Linked DNA regions of Homo sapiens. The protein of the gene in region 1 interacts with the protein of each later gene in a pairwise test. Each region holds a gene or a part of one and is shown in the gene's direction. Other genes may lie near its edges.

Region 1 (7,282 bases):
AAACCAACTAGTGAAGGGATAAACCCACTGACTGACTACACATTTAAGCCAGTTAACAGGCATTTATTGAGCACCTAGTATGTGCCTAACACTGTATTAGGCCCTGAGGATACAGTAGGGACCAAGACAGCCAGGATCCCTGCCCTCCAGCAATTTATCGTCTACCTACCCTTATAGTGCATAACAGGCCCGAGACAAGGGTGAGATGAGAGAGATGTGTCATGCAGGTGCAGGGTCAGATCCTGTCTGTATTTATGATTTTGATATTTTGTTCATCATGTGCCTTTTTCCATTAATGTTTTTTTTAACATACTGCACTAAAATATTTTCTCTTAATTTATGAGTTTTTTGGCACTTAAATTTTGTGCCTTAGGCAAATGCCTCATTTGCCTCACCATAGTTTTAGCCCTGGTGTGAAGCAATGCAGGAAAAGGTTTTGATTTTTGTTTTTTGTTGGGCAGGGGGGTTGTTTGTTTGTTTGTTCTGAGACTGGTTCTTGCTCTGTCACCCAGGCTAGAATGCAGTGGCTCAATCATAGCTCACTGCAGCCTCAACCTCCTGAGCTCAAGCAATGCTCCCACCTCAGCCTCCCAGGCAGCTGGGACTACAGGCATGTGCCACCACACCCGGGTAATTTTTTATTTTTTTTATTTTTTTATTTTTTTTATTGATCATTCTTGGGTGTTTCTCACAGAGGGGGATTTGGCAGGGTCATAGGACAATAGTGGAGGGAAGGTCACCAGATAAACAAGTGAACAAAGGTCTCTGGTTTTCCTAGGCAGAGGACCCTGAGGCCTTCCGCAGTGTTTGTGTCCCTGGGTACTTGAGATTAGGGAGTGGTGATGACTCTTAACGAGCATGCTGCCTTCAGGCATCTGTTTAACAAAGCACATCTTGCACTGCCCTTAATCCATTTAACCCTGAGTGGACACAGCACATGTTTCAGAGAGCACAGGGTTGCGGGGTAAGGTCACAGATCAACAGGATCCCAAGGCAGAAGAATCTTTCTTAGTACAGAACAAAATGAAAAGTCTCCCATGTCTACCTCTTTCTACACAGACACGGCAACCATCCGATTTCTCAATCTTTTCCCCACCTTTCCCCCCTTTCTATTCCACAAAACCACCATTGTCATCATGGCCTATTCTCAATGAGCTGTTGGGCACACCTCCCAGACGGGGTGGTGGCTGGGCAGAGGGGCTCCTCACTTCCCAGTAGGGGCGGCCAGGCAGAGGCGCCCCTCACCACCCGGACAGGGCGGCTGGCCGGGTAGGGGGCTGACCCCCCCACCTCCCTCCCGGACGGGGTGGCTGGCCGGGCAGAGGGGCTCCTCACTTCCCAGTAGGGGCGGCCGGGCAGAGGCGCCCCTCACCTCCCGGACGAGGCGGCTGGCCGGGCGGGGGGCTGACCCCCCCACCTCCCTCCCGGACGGGGCGGCTGGCCGGGCGGGGGGCTGACATCCCCACCTCCCTCCCGGACGGGGCGGCTGGCCGGGCAGAGAGGCTCCTCACTTCCCAGTAGGGGCGGCCGGGCAGAGGCGCCCCTCACCTCCCGGACGGGGCGGCTGGCCGGGCGGGGGGCTGACCCCCCCACCTCCCTCCCGGACGGGGCGGCTGGCTGGGCAGAGGGGCTCCTCACTTCCCAGTAGGGGCGGCTGGGCAGAGGCGCCCCTCACCTCCCAGACGGGGCGGCTGGCCGGGCGGGGGGCTGACCCCCCCCACCTCCCTCCCGGACGGGGCGGCTGGCCTGGCGGGGGCTGACCCCCCACCTTCCTCCCGGATGGAGCGGCTGGCCGGGCAGAGGGGCTCCTCACTTCCCAGTAGGGGCGGCTGGGCAGAGGCGCCCCTCACCTACCGGATGGGGCGGCTGGCCGGGCGGGGGGCTGACCCCCCCACCTCCCTCCCGGACGGGGCGGCTGGCCTGGCAGGGGCTGACCCCCCACCTCCCTCCCGGACGGGTCGGCTGCCAGGCGGAGAGGCTCCTCACTTCCCAGACGGGGTGGCTGCCGGGCGGAGGGGCTCCTCACTTCTCAGACAGGGCGGTTGCCGGGCGGAGGGTCTCCTCCCTTCTCAGATGGGGCGGCTGGGCAGAGACGCTTCTCACCTCCCAGACGGGGTCGCGGCCGGGCAGAGGCGCTCCTCACATCCCAGACGGGCCGGCGGGGCAAAGGCGCTCTCCACATCTCAGACAATGGGCGGCCGGGCAGAGACGCTCCTCACTTCCTAGATGGGATGGCGGCCGGGAAGAGGCGCTCCTCACTTCCTAGATGGGATGGCGGCCGGGCAGAGACGCTCCTCACTTTCCAGACTGGGCAGCCAGGCAGAGGGGCTCCTCACATCCCAGACGATGGGCGGCCAGGCAGAGACGCTCCTCGCTTCCTAGATGGGGTGGCGGCCGGGCAGAGGCTGCACTCTGGGCACTTTGGGAGGCCAAGGCAGGCGGCTGGGAGGTGGAGGTTGTAGCGAGCCGAGATCACACCACTGCACTCCAGCCTGGGCACCATTGAGCACTGAGTGAACCAGACACCGTCTGCAATCCCGGCACCTCCGGAGGCCGAGGCTGGCGGATCACTCGCGGTTAGGAGCTGGAGACCAGCCTGGCCAACACAGTGAAACCCGTCTCCACCAAAAAAATACGAAAACCAGTCAGGCGTGGCAGTGTGCACCTGCAATCGCAGGCACTCGGCAGGCTGAGGCAGGAGAATCAGGCAGGGAGGTTGCAGTGAGCCGAGATGGCAGCAGTACAGTCCAGCTTCGGCTCGGCATCAGAGGGAGACCCTGGAAAGAGAGGGAGAGGGAGACCGTGGGGAGAGGGAGAGGGAGAGGGAGAGGGAGAGCAATTTTTTATTTTTTGTAGAGATGAGGTCTTACTATGTTGGCCAGGCTGGTCTCGAACTCCTGGGTTCAAGAGATCTTCCCACCTCGGCCTCCCAGAGTGCTGATATTATAGGTGTGAGCCACCACACCCAGCCCAGGAAAAGTTTTTGACCATTTATATGAATATTCTATCTAGGAAATCGCTGAAATGGTTCCCACAGATGTGCATATCTCATCAGGGGGTCGTTCAGTAGTTGCACATACCTCTGGGTGGCCATGGAGAATGATGGATTTGTAACGCTAACCAGCAAACAGTGCCAAAGCCAGCAGCTCATATGGGTATTTTTGCCTGTGAGTTGTGGTTTCTGATATCTCTCCAGGATAGACACTCAGTTTTGCCTGGGCATGATGGTGCGTACCTGTCATCCCAGCTACCTGGGGGGCACTGAGGTGGGAGGATCACTTGAGCCCGGGAGGTCAAGGCTGCAGTGAGCCATGATCGTGCCACTGCACTCCAGCCTGTGCAACAGAGCGAGACCCTGTCTCAAAAAAACAAAAAAAGACACTCAGTTGGGAGTTTCCACTTTTTCATGCTGTTTTCACCTATTGACTGCATCTGCGTTTCTTCTGAGTGTTTCCACAGTAGCTGGGTGTTATTCCTGCTCAGTGGGTTGCCGTGGCAGCCTTAGCTGTGAGTGAGTGACAAGGCAGAGGTTTCCATTTCCTTGGCTGGAATTAGCTGTTAAGCTCCCCATTAGCTGTTCCTTTTCCTGGTCCAGGGATGCCCTGCAGGACTCTTTTCCTTGACTGAGGCATCGTCTTACCTTAACTCCCCAGTGGGCAGAAAATCTTGGTTTTAATAATTTGAGTTGGTGAGAATAGAGCAAAGACACAGAAGGTGCTTGAGTTTGTTGGGGCTTTTGCTTTTGCCGTTAAGGATGGGGAGGAGGGGCCCTCTTGTCTAGGATGAATTGAAGGTAAAGGCAGCTAAGAGAAGGGGAGTGAATGCGGATCCACTTCTGAGGGAGGATGTTGGGGAAAAAGATGGAGGTGGATTGGCATAGTAGCTGGGAACCCAGAGGAAAAGGAGAGGAAATGAGTTGTTTGAAAAGGATCAGCCCTGGAAAAGTTCTGGCTTTCATGTTGGAAAAGCATTCCCCATATCTGCAGAGGTTAGAGCCAAGAAACACACAGCTCTGGGGATCCCCAGAGGACCTTCAAAGAGACCTCCAGCTGGGTGCGGTGGCTCAGGCCTGTAATCCTAGCACTTTGGGAGGCTGAGGCAGGTGGATCACCTGAGGTCAGGAGTTCGAGACCAGCCTGGCCAACGTGGTGAAACCCCATCTCTACTAGAAATACAAAAATTAGCTGGGCATGGTGGCGGGCACCTATAATCCCAGCTACTGGGGAGGCTGAGGCAGAAGATCACTTGAACCTGGGAGGCGGAGGTTGCAGTGAGTTGAGATCACGCCACTTCATTCCAGCCTGGGCGAAAGAGTGAAACTCCTTTTCAACAAATAAAGAGATACCCCCAGCTTGTGATAATTAGCCTTCCCCTCTTGCATCCTTCCTACAGCTTGGGCTGCCCTAACCAGCCACAGGGCCAGCCTGATCAAGTCACTCACCTTAACACAGCCTGTGGTTCCCCATGGTCCGTGTGGCTGTAGGAGCAGCGCCCTCCTCTCTGCCCCTTCTCCCCACCATGCCACCCCCACTGCCCATGTGCTTGGTGTCTCAGCCGCCGTGCTCCTTGGTGGCCCCTGCACTCGCCATGATCTCCCACCCTGTGCCATTCCCACATCCGTGAATGCTCCTCCCCTGTCCCCTTTCTGCTCTCCCGGGACTCAGGAACGAGGTCTTCCCTCGACCCTGCTCATCCCCTGTGCTCTCTGACTTCCCCACCATACCATAACCTCCTCAAGGGCAAGGAACGTTTGTTTTCTACCTCAGTATTGCTGACATCAGCCCAACTCCTGGCACAGAGTTGCAGAATAAAACAGGAGGCATCATGGTTACTTCCATTCAGACAGCCACAAGCCCCAACACCAAAGGGACTTGGTCCTAAAATTCACATCCTCCTGCCCCACTGACCCCTGCCAGGCCTTGGTGGAAGTTCTGTCCACAGAGTGCACACGTGGGTGTCTGAATCTTTGTGTATCATCCAGCTCCCTTTCTTGCCCAGCAGGTGCTGGATGTGTCTGGGGCAGACATGTTGGCCAAGTCAATTGCCAACTGCCAGGTGGAGCTTCTGGAAAACTGTGGGCACTCAGTAGTGATGGAAAGACCCAGGAAGACAGCCAAGCTCATAATCGACTTTTTAGCTTCTGTGCACAACACAGACAACAACAAGAAGCTGGACTGAGGCCCCGACTGCAGCCTGCATTCTGCACACAGCATCTGCTCCCATCCCCCAAGTCTGACGCAGCCACCACTCTCAGGGATCCTGCCCCAAATGCGGTCGGAGCGCCAGTGACCCTGAGGAAGCCCGTCCCTTATCCCTGGTATCCACGGTTCCCCAGAGCTTTGGGGACCACGCGAAAACCTCCAAGATATTTTTCACAAAATAGAAACTCATATGGAACAAAATAAGAAACCCCAGCCATGAAATCTACCATGAAGTCTTCAAGTTCATGTCACTGAGAAGCTTGTGCAAAGCAGCCACCTTGGACCATAATTAAATCAAGGACATTTTCTTTGAGACATTCCTTATAGTTGGAGACTCAAGATATTTTTGTTGCATCAGGTGTATTCCCTTGCATGGGCAGTGGCTTTTATAGGAGCATTAGTCCTCATTCGCTGAACCCTGTTGTTTAGGTCTAATTTAAGTTTTACATAGAGACCCATGTATGACTGCAGCCCATTGGCTGCAAGACCAGGGAGGAAAGTGGCAAGCTGTAGAAAATGTTTACACGCATGGAGGGGCATTGCTCTAGCCCTCAGAGCGTCCGGAGCAGCAGGGTACATGGGTGGGAGGTTCATTCAGCACCCACCAGTCAGGTATGTTCTGAGTGAACCCACAGCAGTCGCAGAATGAGCACCTGGCAGGGTGGGTTTCCTAGGAATAATTTATTATTTTTAAAAATAGGCCTAATAAAGCAATAATGTTCTAGACATCTGTCTAAGTAATCAGACTCAGGTTCCACACACAAGCAACAACTCGTGGGCCTCTTTTCTATTTCAATGTGCTACTAAGAACCCTTGGATGTAACATACTAGTTAGTTAATGAATTCTGTGAATTCTGTGAAGAGTAATGTGATTGAAAATAAGTCTAAACAGCTGTAAAAGTGACCACAATGACATGAAATAAATTTAATAAGTCTAGATCAGCAACATGCAGGTGGTTTCTATTTCTGAACTCCTAATTAGGTGCAATGTTGGCAGATTTTCTGTTAACTTTAAAATGTGTTTTTTAAAATAAGGCTTGTTTAACAGGCTTTGGAAGTCTTTGCATGGATGATTTATTAGGTTTAAGGAATCATGTTTGCAATTTTTATCCAGTTGAAATTGTATATCAAAGGCCAGGTGCAGTGGCTCATGCCTGTAATCCCAGCACTTGAGAAGGCCGAGGTGGGTCGATTGCTTGAGGCCAGGAGTTCAAGACCAACCTGGCCAACATGGCAAAATCTTATCTCTACTAAAAATGCAAAAATTATCTGGGCGTGGTGGGACACACCTGTAATCCCAGCTACCTGGGAGCCTGAGGCATGAGAATCGCTTGAACCCGGGAGGCGGAGGTTACAGTGAGCCGAGATTGTGCCATTGCACTCCAGCCTGGGCAATAAGCGCAAAAATCCATCTCAAAATAATATAATAATAATTCACTGGAAATTGTATATCAAAAAAGGCAAGAGTCATCAAAATATTCTTTTTGACTCTTTCTGTAGGATTTAGGAGCCCTAAACTCCCCAGGAGCTTCACTCTTTCCAATTTTTTTTTTACAGAAAATCTACAGCCAAGTCATTCTGGGAATAAAGTGAGATAAACTTTACAGTTTAAATCTGAATTCAGGACTGTGTTTGAATATTTCAGTTTACCAGAGAAGAATGGAACTTAGAGCTTAAAAACAAGAAGAAGATATGAAAATATGACATCAAGCTGGGCTGCAGCTAAAGCAGTGCCTCAGAGGGAAATTCATAGGCTTCAATACGTATATTAGAAGGGAAGAGGCTAGGTGGAGTAGCTCACACCTGTAGTTTCAACACCTTGGGAGGCCAAGGCGGGAGGACTGCTTGAGCCCAGGAGTTTGAGACCAGCCTGGGCAACATGGCAAGACCCCATCTCTTATATAAAAAGAAAAAAGGAAAGAAAAATCAATAAATTAAGCTTCTAGCTCAAGAAATGAGAAAATAAATAGTATCAAAGCCAGAGCAAATTAGAGGGAAGAAACACAGACAAAAACAAAAATCAATGAAGTAGAAAAGAAAGTAGATATTAGACATTTTATTTGTTCCAATTTCCTATATTC
Region 2 (4,949 bases), on another chromosome or scaffold:
TTAGCAAAGGATGCCTATTGAAAATCTATAAAAATGGCCAGGCACAGTGGCTCACACCTGTAATCCCAGCACCTTGGGAGGCCAGGGCAGGCGGATCACGAGGTCAGGGGTTCGAGACCAGCCTAATCAACATGGTGAAACCCTGTCTCTACTAAAAATACAAAAATTAGCTGGGCCTGGTGGCGCACACCTTTAATCCCAGCTACGCAGTAGGCTGAGGCAGGAGAATCACTTGAACTCGGGAGACAGAGGTTGCAGTGAGCCAAGATCACGCCATTGCACTCCAGCCTGGGCAACACAGTGAGACTCCGTCTCAAAAAAAAAAAAAAAAAAACTATAAAAATAAGACTCTTTCTTAAAAGATACAAATAATTTTACCCTATGTTTGTCTACTTCGGCAATTCAGATTTTCAGGTTTATTCTACAGCAGGGTGTAGGTGTAGAAGAAACAGCCTCTCTAAGTGTTGCCAGTCTAGTTGAGAAAACAGTACAGACAGGAAGATTTATAAACACCTGCAGAATTATTTAGCAACAAATTCTAGTGCATACAGTACAGTTATCCTCTGGGAAGTCTCTGAATTAAGAAAGTCAGGTGGGGCCAGGCACTGTGGCTCATGCCTGTAATCTCAGCACTTTGGGAGGCCAAGGCCAGAGGATGGCTTGAAGTCAGGAATTTGAGACCACCTGGCCTGTCTGTGTAACAAAGATGTTTAAATTAGCCAGGCATGGTGGTGTGTGCTTATAGTCCCAGCTACTTGGGAGGCTGAGGCAGGAGGATCACTGACCCCAGGAGTTTGAGGCTGCAGTGAGCCATGGACATGCTACTGTGCTCCAGACTGGAGTGACAGAGCGAGACCCTGTCTCCGTTTTTTGTTTTTTTTTTCCCGAGACTGAGTGTGCAATGGTGCAATCTTGGCTCACCGCAACCTCTGCCTACCGCATTCAAGCAATTCTGCTGCCCCAGCCTCCCGAACAGCTGGGATTACAGGCATGTGCCAACACGCCCGGCTAATTTTGTATTTTTAGTAGAGACGGGGTTTCTCCATGTTGGTCAGGCTGGTCTCAAACTCCCGACCTCAGGTGATCCGCCCGGCTCAGCTTCCCAAAGTGCTGGGATTATAGTCATGAGCTACGGCTCACGGCCCACCCTGTCTCTTTAAAAAAAAAAAAAAAAAAAAAAAAAAGGAAGGAAGACAAAGTCAGGTGGGGTCTTCGGGGAAGGCTGATTGAAGGTGAGTTTTGAGCTGATTTTTTTAAAGGGGGAGGGAGTCCTAACTTTTTTTTTTTTAAACAATAATTGTACAGCAGGCAGTTTAGTTAAAACCACAACGGCAGCACTTTGGGAGGCCAGGGCAGGCAGATCACTTGAGGTCAGGAGTTTGAGACCAGCCTGGCCAACATGGTGAAACTCCATCTCTACTGAAAATACAAAAATTAGCCAGGCGTGGTGGCGGGCACCTGTAATTCCAGCTGCTCGGGAAACCGAGGCAGGAGAATCGCTTGAACCCAGGAGGCGAAGGTTGCAGTGAGCCGAGATCACGCCATTGCACCGCAGCCTGGGCGACGAGTGAAACTCCGTCTGAAAAAAAATACCACAGCAGATGCCAAAACTGAGTCACGCTGCCTTTGGCTTCTCCAGGGCCCCGATTTCCTCATTTCAGTTGGATGGACCAGTTGACTGTAATACTGATAAAAGGCATGTTCTGTCACTGGGGTGTTGGCACAGCTGGGGTTCACCCTGTCCCAGAGCTCTGGCTAGGGTGCTGGGAGTGACTGGAGCTGAAAGGGAGGCTTAGGACTGTGACCCTCCCAGGATCACAGAGGCATTCAGAGAGTGGAAGGGGCCTCTGGGACACAGTATTAGGAAAGTATTAGGAAAGAAGCATTTCTCACCCTCTTCTCTGCCCCTCCCCAGAGCTGCTGCCCAAAGGGAGCAAGGAGGAACAGCGGGATTACGTCTTCTACCTGGCCGTGGGGAACTACCGGCTCAAGGTGAGGTGGGGACCCCGTTCCCTTCACCCTCCTCTGGGGCTGCAGGACCTTCTTACTGTGTCCTCCAGGGTGGAGCCCTGGACAGCGGGAAGGCTGAAGGGGTGCAGAGGTGCAGAGCGGTGTCAGATGAGGACTCCGAGGGAAGATCAGAGTGGCGAGGGGGTGGGGAGGAAGGTGACGTCAAGAGACTGGGTGCAGGCCCAAGCCTTGCGCTGTTATCTCCCGCAGAGTTGGGGTTGTTTGTGGACTCTACTCCGTGGGGTGGGGCTGGAGGGAGGGAGTGGGTGGAGGTCGAGGGAGGAGCCCCCAGGGCTGAAGAAGGGAAGGCCCTTCACGTGGGCAGGGGGAGTGGTGGATACTGAGGTGTAGCCGGCCCAGTGGCTCACGCCTGTAATCCCGGCTACTCAGGAGGCTGAGGCGGGAGGACTGCTTGAGCCTGGGAGTTTGAGGTTGCAGTGGGCTGTGATTGCGACGCTGCCGTCCAGCGTGGGCAACAGAGCAAGACCCCGTCTCTTATTAAAAAACAAACAAACAAAAAAACACTGCGGTGTGTATGACGCGTGCGCGTTTCCCCGAGCGCAGGAATACGAGAAGGCCTTAAAGTACGTCCGCGGGTTGCTGCAGACAGAGCCCCAGAACAACCAGGCCAAGGAACTGGAGCGGCTCATTGACAAGGCCATGAAGAAAGGTGACAGCCTCGGCCCCTTTGTTCAGCCCCGCTCTTCCCCACGCCTGGGCACTTTGGTCTCTCTGTAAATGAACCCCTCCAGGCAGCCCCTCAGCCCCACCCCTTCCAGTTCTTAGAGCCCCTTGCCCTGCGACTCCAGGTAGGGGTGTGCCTCTGTTGAGGGGCAGGGCTGGCGGAAGGGGACGGTCAGGGTTTCCGCAGGGGCCGGGCTCCTGACACTGTCCCTTTCCTTCCCCAGATGGACTCGTGGGCATGGCCATCGTGGGAGGCATGGCCCTGGGTGTGGCGGGACTGGCCGGACTCATCGGACTTGCTGTGTCCAAGTCCAAATCCTGAAGGAGACGCGGGAGCCCACGGAGAACGCTCCAGGAGGGCCTGTCCATCCTCGCTGTCCTTTCCCTGTTCTCCCCCTGCCCCCCGTCTCTATCCTCTGTGGCCTTCAGCTAATTTCTGCTCCCCTGAGATTCGTCCTTCAGCCCCATCATGTGCTTTGGGATGAGTGTAAATAAAACGGGGCTGTGGCTTGGGAACCCCCGTGTCTGCGTTGAGGGGAGGGGTGGGTTCTGAACGCTGGGCACAGGGGGCGGAGACGTCACTCCTGGTCCTCTCCTGCCCCTGCCCTCCAGGTTGGCACGGGGTTCTTTGTCCACCCCGCAGCCCAGAGCCCACACCCTTCCTTCCTCCCTTTCCTGAAGCCATGTCCTTGAGAGTGCCGGGCAGCTCGGAGACATGGGGCTTTTCCATGGTCCCAGAGTCCTGGGAGAAGGCAGTGACCTGAGCATGGGCGGGCAGAACTTCGGGGCCAGGCCGGGCTTCAGGCCTGCATTCTCCTCTGACCCACTCAGCTACTTCTGTGGAGTTTTCCACAGCAGGCCCCCTTGGCTTCCTCCTCCCCACCCTCCCCTCCCTTTGTCTTCCTGTGGCCTCCCCTTCCTCCTACCTCCTCCTCTGGGGGAGGGGGAGCCCAGTAGGGGAAGGAATCCTGCATCTGGCATGGAGTAGGCGGGGGTCCCGGGAGAGGTCAGAGCCCAGGGAGCCCCAGCTCTCGCCTGTGGGCTGGAAGGTCAGGACTCAGCCCCACCTAGCCAGCTTCGCCCCCTCGTGCCAGGCTCGGCATGGGCCTGTTTTGCTTCACCGCATACCTCTCGTTCCACAGCCCAGGCCAGCACAGGAGTAGGGAGGAGACACCTGAGGGGAGGCCGGAGAAGCCCAGCAGGGCCGTGGGGCCAGGGAGGTGCGCAGCCAGCGCTGATGGCCCCCAGGGACAGAGCCCTAGGGAACCGGAGCAGGAGATGAGAGTGTCTGCTCTGGGACAGGTGCTCTGCACTGGCTCGGGATGGGGACCAGAGGCTGCTAATCCATCATCATTAACGAATAGAGTGGGTGACAGTCCCTGATAACTGGGAACAGGTTGCAGAGCTTAGCCACAGGATCACGCTCCAGGCTGTTGGCCAGCAGGACCAGGCTCGATGCTGAGTCAAAGATCAACTTAGGAGGAAATTTGAGTTTTGGGTGAGAGCGACTCCCTGGTGGCCTCAGCCCTGTGACACTCACATCCAGGACAGTTCCCGGTGCCAAGCGCTGGTTATGTGTGGGGGGCTTGACTCCCTGGTCCCAACGAGGTCTCAGTGTGTTGCCCAGGCTGGTCTTGAACTCCTGAGTTCAAGCAATCGTCTCAGCCCAGCCTCCCAAAGTGGTAGGATTACAGGCGAGAGCCACTGCGCCCGGCCCCTGGTCCCAGTTCTCACCACAGCCCCTGCAGTAAGCAGTCGGGTATGTCACTGACAGAGCAGAAGCTCAGGGGACTAAAACTCCCCGCCTGAGTTCCCTGGTGAATGGATGGTGGGGCCGAGTTCCATTCCAGGCTGGATGGAGCCCAGAGCTGTGGGTCTCCTACCCTCCCATCCCCTCATTCCAGCTTGATCTTCCTTAAGAGACTCATACGCCCCAACCCCTTGGTCTGAGTATCTTAGATTGTTCTCGTGGTTCCTCCGTCCTTCACCACTGAAGGCTGCTGTTCATTCTCTCTCCGTCTCTGTCCCTTATTGCTCTCACGTCTGTCTCTGTCATCTTTTCACTCCTTGTCCCTCTTACTCCGTTCTTTGGCCCCCAATGAAAGCTGAGTCAGAGACAGACGCTTCCCCTCAGTTCCCAGTGCCTCCCTTGGGGGCCCCTCCTTGGCTGTATCCGTCAGTGGCTCCAGGGTAAGTCTGCCCCCCCCACCCTCGTGGGGCGGGGAGCCCGGGGCAGCCCAGAGGCTGGGGGGAGG
Region 3 (9,094 bases), about 130 Mb from region 1:
AATGATTCTATGTCATTTCATTTTCTAAGTCTTTGCCCATGCTTTCCCCTCCTTAGGGAAAAGCACCCCTTTAACATTTTTTTTATTTAACTGCCAATTGGTCATCCTGTAAGGGTTTATTCACATACCACTCCTTCTGTGGAAGCCTTATTGACTTCCCTACCTGCTGTGACAATGCATGTTTTCCAAAGACGATCACATTGGTATCTCCCGACTTGCATCTTCTTACAACATAGCTTTGACTTTCCTCCTATCCAAATGTGGGGTCTATGCTCCTTTACCTTGAATCTGGGCAATGGTGAAAGTGTTGCCTTGTGACTTTTGAGGGTAGCTCATAAAAGGAAGCACAGCTTCTGCCTGATTCTCTTGTGACACCAGCCCTTGGAACTCAGCCAGCATCCTGTGAGGAAGCCCAGGCTCCATAGAAAGGCCATGTGTAGATGTTTTGGCCCATAGACCTAGCTGTGGTCCCATCTCACAGGCAGCATCAACCTCCAGACATAGGAATGAATGAGCCTTCATATAATTTTTCCAAGAAGACCTAGTTTGTTGTTGTTATTTTAACTGGAGAATGGTATTAGGAACCCAGATGTGTGTGGTAGGTGTGCTCATTGCTACTGGGGTGGGTCATGTTTAAAGAAATGTTCACTCTGGCCAGGCACAGTGGCTCATGCCTGTAATCCCAGCACTTGGGGAGGCCGACGTGGGTGGATCACGACGTCAGGAGTTCGAGACCAGCCTGGCCAACATGGTGAAACCCCATCTCTACTAAAAATACAAAAATCAGCCAGGTGTGCTGGTGCACGTCTGTGATCCCAGCTACTCAGGAGGCTGAGGCAGGAGAATCGCTTGAACTCAGGAGGCAGAGGCTGCAGTGAGCCGAGATCACGCCATTGCACTCCAACTTGCTTGACGTAGTGAGACTGTCCCAAGAAAAAAAAAGAAAAGAAATATTCACTCTGCGTGAGATGAAGTGAGGCATGCATTGGTTCTTCATGTGCTCCCACTCTATATCCAAATTTAACTATAATTGTTCTGGCTTGTAGTTGTGGCCATTTTCTTGTTTCACTAATCAAGGGATCTTTCTGTTTTAAAATTCTTTTTATTCTGGTCAGTGGGTTTTCTTGTAGAATTCTCTCTTCCCAAGCTTTACTTATATTTACCTTGGGACTTTGCAAGAAATGTAGCTTTTTAACTATAGTGTCTATAAGCATATATCAAGAAAGCTCAAATTTACTGAGAAATATAAAGATCTGCATCTCATATGCTTTGTTTTACATCTCATGTAAAACATCTTCGTTTAACATATTTGTTTTACATCTCATGTAAGATCTGCGTCTCATATGCTTTGTTTTACTATAAAACCTACCTGCCTTATCCTTGGGAGTAAGAAAGCATTTTTATAGTGTGTAGTTATGCTCTTTCCAATTGTTTGACAACTGGGGAAATAAATTGAAGTGTTTCTAGCATATTTAACTTAACTCTAAGCAAAGCCTGATCATTTTGGGCCTGTGACTCCTATTGACTGTGTATCTTCTGGTTCCAATGTCAGAGCTAAGTGGTCTGTTTAAATCTTTACTGGGGGCTTTTAACTGCCTGTTTATGCAATATCTATGTAATGTTTGTCCAATTTTATGCACTTGAACAATTTTATCTTGATTTTTGGATAAGAAAAAGGGTAAAGTCAGTATCCAGCCTTAAGGGTAAATACAATACTAATGAGTGTATTAGTCCTTTCCCTTCTCACTCCCATGTAAATTGAAGTACATAGTCAATTCTGGGAATGTAAAGTCTCCAAGGAAGTTAACTGAGCTAAGTGTTGGGGCCAAACAGCCTTTCTGACTGCTCATCAAGGAATCCCCATCAGTCTTTGGAAGGTGACCTGTTTCCTAAAGATAGATACTCAAGGTAAAATTCGTTCTATTTATCGTGAGAGACTTGCCTCAGGAATGGACTCAGCTTTAATGGGTCCTTTCCTTATGTGAATTGGTGTCTCCTGGAAAGCCCTGGAACTACAAATGTTCTACTGGGTAAATGTGTGTTTAAAAGGAAAGATATATATTTTTAAAAGTCTGCCCAGGATATTGACCCCAGCCTTGTCATTTTTAGAATGGATGCTTTAAAAGCCAGCACAATCTATCCCATGCTCCCTTTTCACCCTGCCTTGATGGCTAGGAGTGTCCCAGAGATGAGTCATGGCTATTTTTGTGTGTGTTGAGCCTCAGCTCAACAGAAACTAGCAGGTTCTCTGAGTATAGCTAAGGAACTCTGATGAAGGCCCTCAGCCTCTTGGACAGAAGCAGCATAGGCTGTACCTGCTGAAAGTGTCCCCAGACCCTCTATATTCTTCCTTCCTAACTCAACCCCTATCTTTTTTTTTTCTCCCTTGCATGGAGCACACCCTATTTCTATCTGTCTTTTTATGTATTTACATCCCATAATAGATTCGTCACCAAATCTCTATCTAGGATAATAAGACCCGGAAAAAAGGATAAGTAGATATAGTCACTCTTAATACAGATTCCAGAGCCTTTGGGGTGCTGGGAAGCATGGTGCACAGAATTTGGGCCCTTGGACACCAGCAGAAACAGAATGTCACTTGCCTGCAGTTGCTCTGGTTGCTGCCAATTAATAAAAGGGCAGCGTAAAATCTTCCTGGGAAGATTCCACTATGTGCCACTATTAGAGAGCCATGGACTGCTCTGTGTGGCCTCCCCTGAGATTCAGAGGTCAGCTCCCACCCAAAGAGTGGGAGCTTGGACCATGCTGTCGCTAAGTGCTACATCCTGGGGATGGAGAGGCCTTCCTAATATCTCTTGAAAATACTCCCCAGGGGATCTTGGATTCGCCCTATAGCATCGTCTACGGTTCTTTGAATTGCGGAGACACAGGAGAAGATAGGACACACCTTGCATTTGTCCTGGATCTATTTCCTGGTAAAGAAATATTATAAACCACTAGCTCATTTTACTCAATCTTCTTTTTTTGTTTTTCATTTTTGGCCTCCAGTAGCCTGTGGGACAACATATCCCATCAGTAACAATGGCTGGCAATAGAAGGGATTCTTCCCAGGACTGGAGTAGGTGGAGAGCAAATTTGTCTCCTCAAGAACATGTATTGAAATCTCTGAAGCAGAGGTGTATACAGTTTTCAGAACTCTCCAGGTGATTTTGATGTACACACCTTTTCAACTCTTCATTACTTTGTCATTTTAAGCTCCACACTGGCATTTCTTACATTACTCTAATAAGTAAAATTGAATAATAAATATTTTACAAAGCTCTTCATTAACTTGCATTCCAAATTGAAGGGGAAAAGTGATTCTTTTATCCATCCCCTCCCCCTTGCTGATTTGTTTGCAGAATACAGGTGCTCAGTATTTTATTTTATAAAGAAATAACAATTTCTTTATTTGAAAAAGTATTGCCTAGACAAAATATGTATAATGAAGCTGCCAGAGTGTGATGTGGCCACAGCTGTACACAATATACATTTGTGAGCTCTTAAATCGTGGGTTCTGGAATAAGATAGTGTCATTCGCGGAAAATTGAAGTAGTAATTGTGCTCACTGATTGTATGAAAAGTGAAAACAGTGCTGTTACACAGAAAGATGAATTCTATTGGTCTCTGCTTAGAAGCTGCTATGCTAAATTAAACCTGATACTAGGCCTAAGGGGATTGCATTATTTGAGGAAAAAAGAAAATACAGGTAAACCCTGACAATTCTCATCCTCTTTCTGTTTTTCCTTTATTGCCATTTGTTCTGGGAACAAGGGTATACTATTTCTCAGAGGTTCTTTCCTGGCACGAGGGTCTAGGCCAGGCCATAAGCTCATCTCAGCTTCGTTCAGTTCCTGGCCATTCATGGATCCCTCTGTCTCACCTGGTCTGGTAACTGGCTTCTAAGGGAATCCCCAGTGAGGTTTGAGCTACCCAGTCCTGAGAGCCTGGGCCAGTAATTTTCCATTTCCAGGCCTCAGTTGTTTTAATTCAATGTCAATAAATTTTGGTTAAGAAATGAAGAGTTCAAGAAATAAACCAGATTTTTAAAAATAAAAGAGCTCTTCTAGAGCTGTCAGTCAATGGTTCAAAGACAATTGTGTCCTTTCTGAGGTCTTTAGCACAAAGCCGCTAGAGTAACACTTTTCATTTCAAGAGAGAATCCAGTGACATTGTCCCTGACTTCACACTTCCTGAAAACCACTTGGCAACTCAACACCAAGAGCTTCCGGTTCTTAGCAACCTGTTTCACTTCTTGAAGCTCTTTACTGTTGGAACTCTGCGTGTCTAGGGATCCAGACTTCCGGGTTAAAGAATCGTAAGATGATTACAGTTGGAAGTTGGACCAAAGCTAGGGTAAGCAGCCATATGCCTGGTCTTTTCCATGCTCAAGGCAGCCTCCCTTCAGGTAACCGTGTCTTCACTTGGATTACCAAATTTGAAGTCAGATTCCCCTCTGGTTTCTAAAGAATTTGAATTGGGCATCACAGAGCTACGGATGCTCTCTTGCTCCAGCTCAGCAGTAATGGAGGCAGCAGGAGCCTGCAGCACAGAACAAACTCATTACCCCAGCAGCCACCTTAGCCTGGCTTGGGACCAGGAACTGAATATGGGCTCTAACAGTTCTATGACGCTATGAATCTGAAATGTTATTACTGTGCTTTGCATGGCATATGAAATTACATTCTAGCTCACCAACTGGTCTAAGATTGCCCTGGGCAAAGAGATGTTACTTCTCACTCAATTCCCTGTTAGGAGCACAATAGTACTAAAATAAATAAACAAATGAGCTCGGTTTCAGAAGGCCTAGATCTGAATCTTGGATGAGCCACTTAGGGGTTGCATAAACTTCAGTTTCCTGATCTGATCTGCTTTGGCCAGCACACAGGTCAAGCGGTTTGTGCTAGGCACATGGTAAGTGATGGTCACAGCATATCAGGGGGTGTGGAAGCAGCAGGCTCTGCCTTTCCCTGTCCCTCATTTCTCCTTGACTTCCTAGGGTGTCGTACTTACCATAGCACATGATGTGGAGAATGCTAGAAGAGCAGTTGGGTGAAGCAGGGCCACCAAATAGTCCTTGCCTCCTGGAGACCTCTGGAAATCCAGATGAGTGTGGTCTGAGGTTGGGCCTCCCACTGTGCTTGCTCCTCTCAGGCCTACCCAGCGCTGCCTCTGAAGCCTAACTCAGGGCCCTGAAACTCCCCCTTGGGGCTTCCCTTCTCCCCAGCCCTCACTCTTGGTGCCCTGCCTGGCTACCATGGTAACAGGTTCCAGGGTAACAGAGGAGGGAGCTGGGTCCTGTTTACTCCCAGTCCTGCCGATGAGGATTCTGACCGTAGACACTGAATTGTCCCGTACCTATCCGTGCTCTTTCTGTGTTCTCACCAGGGCTGAGCTCGAACTGCCACCTCTGCCAGCAGGACCATGTGTACCAGCTTGACCACTTGTGAGTGGAAGAAAGTCTTCTATGAGAAGATGGAGGTGGCAAAGCCAGCGGACAGCTGGGAGCTCATCATAGACCCCAACCTCAAGCCCAGTGAGCTGGCCCCTGGCTGGAAGCAGTACCTGGAGCAGCACGCCTCAGGCAGGTGAGAGGTTCAGTGGGGAGGGACCTTGCAGACAGCCCCTGGGTCACAGCTGTGGGGTACTTTCCAAGGAGAGACAGAGCCCAGTCGCGGGCTTATTCTGGTGTCAGCTCAGATGGGGAAAAAGACAAAGACAGCCGGCTGGGTCAGAGAGTTCTTGCTTTTAATCCTAGCAATACCACTAACTCCCTGGGTGACCCTGAGAAAGTTATGTTCCATCTTTGGGTCTTAGTTGTCCACATTAAATGAAGAGCTGTAATATCATCTATGTCCCTGCAATCTCTGACATTTAGAGTGAGTTGGAACTGAAGGAAGGAGGCCATGAGGTCCATTGGGGAAAGTTTTAATCTAGGAGTTGGGGGAATGCAGGGGGTACAGCTATGCTCTGTTCCTAGATATGTTTAGTGAATTAATCCAATTTGATCTGAATACATAAACATTTATTGACCACCTGCTGTGTGCTACGAACTGGCTCTATATAGCTAAGTAGCCTTGTAAACTTGGCAAGTCTGTTTCCCTTTCTGGCTCTCAGTTTTTATATTTACAAAATGAGGGGGTTGGTCTTAGATAATAGATCCAATCCACTCTAGCTCTATTATCTATGCACCTGTGATAAAAAGATTTAGCTTTGAGCAAAACTTTCTTTAGGAACTTAGAGCCCAGGGTCCCACTCTTTATAGGAGCTGCACATCTACCACAGGGCAAAGAGTCCTTGAGGCCAAGGGGACGAGGCCGTCTAAAGTCCACATGCCTTTCCTCCTTTTAGATCATGATTGGGGACTGGGACTACAGAAATTCCTCCCCAGACTACCTCAAGTCCATCTGTAGTGTCTGTGCAGGCCTTTTTCCTGTGTCCTTGGATTCAAGAGAGGCCAGTAAGTGGCTGTGCTCTGGAGATGTAGCCAGAACATGGACACAAAGGCTGGGTTGTTCACGTGTATGTGTGTGAAGCTTCTCATGGTGCAGAATGGTGCTGAGGGTGGGAACAGAGGAGGCAAGATGTGGGTAGGGAGCTTACGTTTGTACTCTTGTCCCAAGACCTGGAATTATTGGAGTAAACCTGCCTTGTGAAAAAAAGACAGAAAACCAGAGGTTGGCTGATTCATGTCAGTTCCATCAACTCAAGAAGCATCTATTGGGTACCTGTTATGTGCTGAGCACTGGCTCTGCCTCTAACTAGCTGTGTGTACATGGATGCCTCTCTTACTATCTGGGCTTCTGTCTCTTCTCAGTGAAATAAAGGGCTGACTAGATGCTTCTTAAGCTCGCCTGCCCCCAGATCTGATATTTTTGAATTTAAGATGTGAGGCCTAACTTGATGTAGGTGAAGCAATTCTGGGTTGGTTTGATGTAAAAAGGTGTAGAAGGAGACTGAAAACATAAAGCATTTGAACTGCCTGGTGGAAGAGGTGCAGATGCCTGGAAACTTGAGTGCCCAGGATCCAGAGTTTCGGGGCTGAGCTCAGCAAGCTCATGTCTCCTCTTGCTTCAGAGGTCAGCTCCTCTTACTCCTGGCTGGTGACTTGTGGCTCCCAGCTGGCCTCAGGAAGAGCTGAAGAACTGCTGCCCATGAGCTTATTTGTGCACAGGCTCACTCTGTCTCTAAACAGGCAGATGCCCTGCAGCTCTCACCCAGCACTGGGGGCGGGGAACCTCTCCTGGTTCAGTACCAGCTAGGTTCCTCTGACCTGCCAACCCCACCTTGGGCCATTCTGGGTACTGTTCTATGCTCATGTGATCAGGCTTTCAGGGGTCAGAGCCAGGCTTGGCCTCACCTCTATCCCATAGCCTGGGTTGAGTGGTGCTTGGCATATGGGAGGTGTTGAATGGTGTCTGTTGGATTGAATTGAGTTCCTAATCAGAAGTCCTTCAAGGCCATCATACAATGGATCCAGAAAGGGCCAGTGATGAGGACAGGGACAGCCCAGTGGACATCTGACTGCCTGTGAAGCCTCTATAACAGAGGCCTGGAAGAGGCTCATCTCAGGGAAGGAAAGAACTGCCCTGGAGGTCAGGAGTGCTGCATCACTGAAAGTGTGCAGGCAGTGGTGGGGGCGGAGTGAGTGGGGCTTGCCTAGATGAGCCCCAGGCTACCACCCACAACACTTCCTGAGACTGGGACTCTAGAAAGCCCAGGTTACGCCAAGTGGCCTCTGTGCATGTAAGAGAGAGAGAGAAAATATATGTGTGTGTGTGTGTGTGTGTGTGTGTGTGTGTGTGTGTGTGTGTGTGTGTGTGGAGTGGCAATGGGAATGAATACCCTCTTTTCCAGTCCCCACTGCAGGGCTAGAGTGGGATCTAGAGAAGACTTGTCAAGAGACTGGGGAGTGTTCTTTGTGAAGATGTAGTAACTAAACTTGGTAGTTCCTCCTAAAAGCCAGTTGATCCTACCCATCTACCGGTCTGTCCATCCCATCATTCTCAGTGGTTTACTGAGGACCTACAGTGTGCCAGGGTCTGTGCTTGGCACAGTTAGAGGCGTCTCTTCTCCCCAAAGTAAGCAAGATGCATGAGTTAGATGGTGTATGTCATCCTTCTTATTAGAGTCGCAGGAGGTCACAGAGGAAGGACCCTTACTGGACGCCAACACACTACATTTCACAAATGAGAAATGAAGCCCAGAGAGGGGGGGATGACCCTGCACAGCGCCCAGGTGCAACCTTGAGTGCATCGGGCTGGGGGGCAGCTGAGACCGCAGGAGGCACGCTCTAGAGCACTGCTGGATGCCAGATGGCTCCGGCACTGGCTCCTGAGGATGCTGCTCGGGTCCCAGGGGTGCTCACCAGGAGGAGGCGAGAGCAGGCCGGCCTTGGAGTGCTAATGAATCCACAGGGCAGTAAACACTGCCTCCATCTCCAAGCACGGGCACACAGGCTTTTTTTTCCCTCTCAGAGCTTCTCAGGGCAGGCTTCTCTGGGATGCCCACCTTCTCCACCCCTCCTTCTCCTCCCGGCAGGTTCCACTGCTCCTGGTGCTGGCACACCTGGCAGTCTGCCCATGTGGTCATCCTCTTCCACATGTTCCTGGACCGCGCCCAGCGGGCGGGCTCGGTGCGCATGCGCGTCTTCAAGCAGCTGTGCTATGAGTGCGGCACGGCGCGGCTGGACGAGTCCAGCATGCTGGAGGAGAACATCGAGGGCCTGGTGGACAACCTCATCACCAGCCTGCGCGAGCAGTGCTACGAGGAGGATGGTGGCCAGTACCGCATCCACGTGGCCAGCCGCCCGGACAGCGGGCCGCATCGTGCAGAGTTCTGTGAGGCCTGCCAGGAGGGCATCGTTCACTGGAAGCCCAGCGAGAAGCTGCTGGAGGAGGAGGTGACCACCTACACCTCTGAAGCCTCCAAGCCGAGGGCCCAGGCGGGATCCGGCTACAACTTCTTGTCTCTTCGCTGGTGCCTCTTCTGGGCCTCTCTCTGCCTGCTCGTTGTTTACCTGCAGTTCTCCTTCCTCAGTCCTGCCTTCTTTTAGTGGAGCTGGTTAAGGGTGGGAGAGGGCACATGGGCTTGA

The links. The genes of interacting proteins can lie anywhere in the genome.
Region 2: the proteins of ABHD6 (region 1) and FIS1 interact in binary tests that used the Homo sapiens proteins (3 or more experiments, as listed by UniProt).
Region 3: the proteins of ABHD6 (region 1) and RTP2 interact in binary tests that used the Homo sapiens proteins (3 or more experiments, as listed by UniProt).

The regions. Positions count from the first base shown.
Region 1 is NC_000003.12:58,288,588-58,295,869, forward strand, and holds the end of ABHD6 (monoacylglycerol lipase ABHD6), read left to right. Parts: intron 1-4,998; coding exon of another isoform or gene 4,999-5,001; coding exon 5,002-5,178; 3' UTR 5,179-6,147; downstream 6,148-7,282. UniProt on the Homo sapiens protein: Lipase that preferentially hydrolysis medium-chain saturated monoacylglycerols including 2-arachidonoylglycerol. Through 2-arachidonoylglycerol degradation may regulate endocannabinoid signaling pathways.
Region 2 is NC_000007.14:101,237,873-101,242,821, reverse strand, and holds the end of FIS1 (mitochondrial fission 1 protein), read left to right. Parts: intron 1-1,915; coding exon 1,916-1,992; intron 1,993-2,574; coding exon 2,575-2,680; intron 2,681-2,918; coding exon 2,919-3,016; 3' UTR 3,017-3,350; downstream 3,351-4,949. UniProt on the Homo sapiens protein: Involved in the fragmentation of the mitochondrial network and its perinuclear clustering. Plays a minor role in the recruitment and association of the fission mediator dynamin-related protein 1 (DNM1L) to the mitochondrial surface and mitochondrial fission.
Region 3 is NC_000003.12:187,698,459-187,707,552, reverse strand, and holds the start of RTP2 (receptor-transporting protein 2), read left to right. Parts: upstream 1-4,995; 5' UTR 4,996-5,424; coding exon 5,425-5,588; intron 5,589-8,541; coding exon 8,542-9,055; 3' UTR 9,056-9,094. UniProt on the Homo sapiens protein: Specifically promotes functional cell surface expression of olfactory receptors, but not of other GPCRs.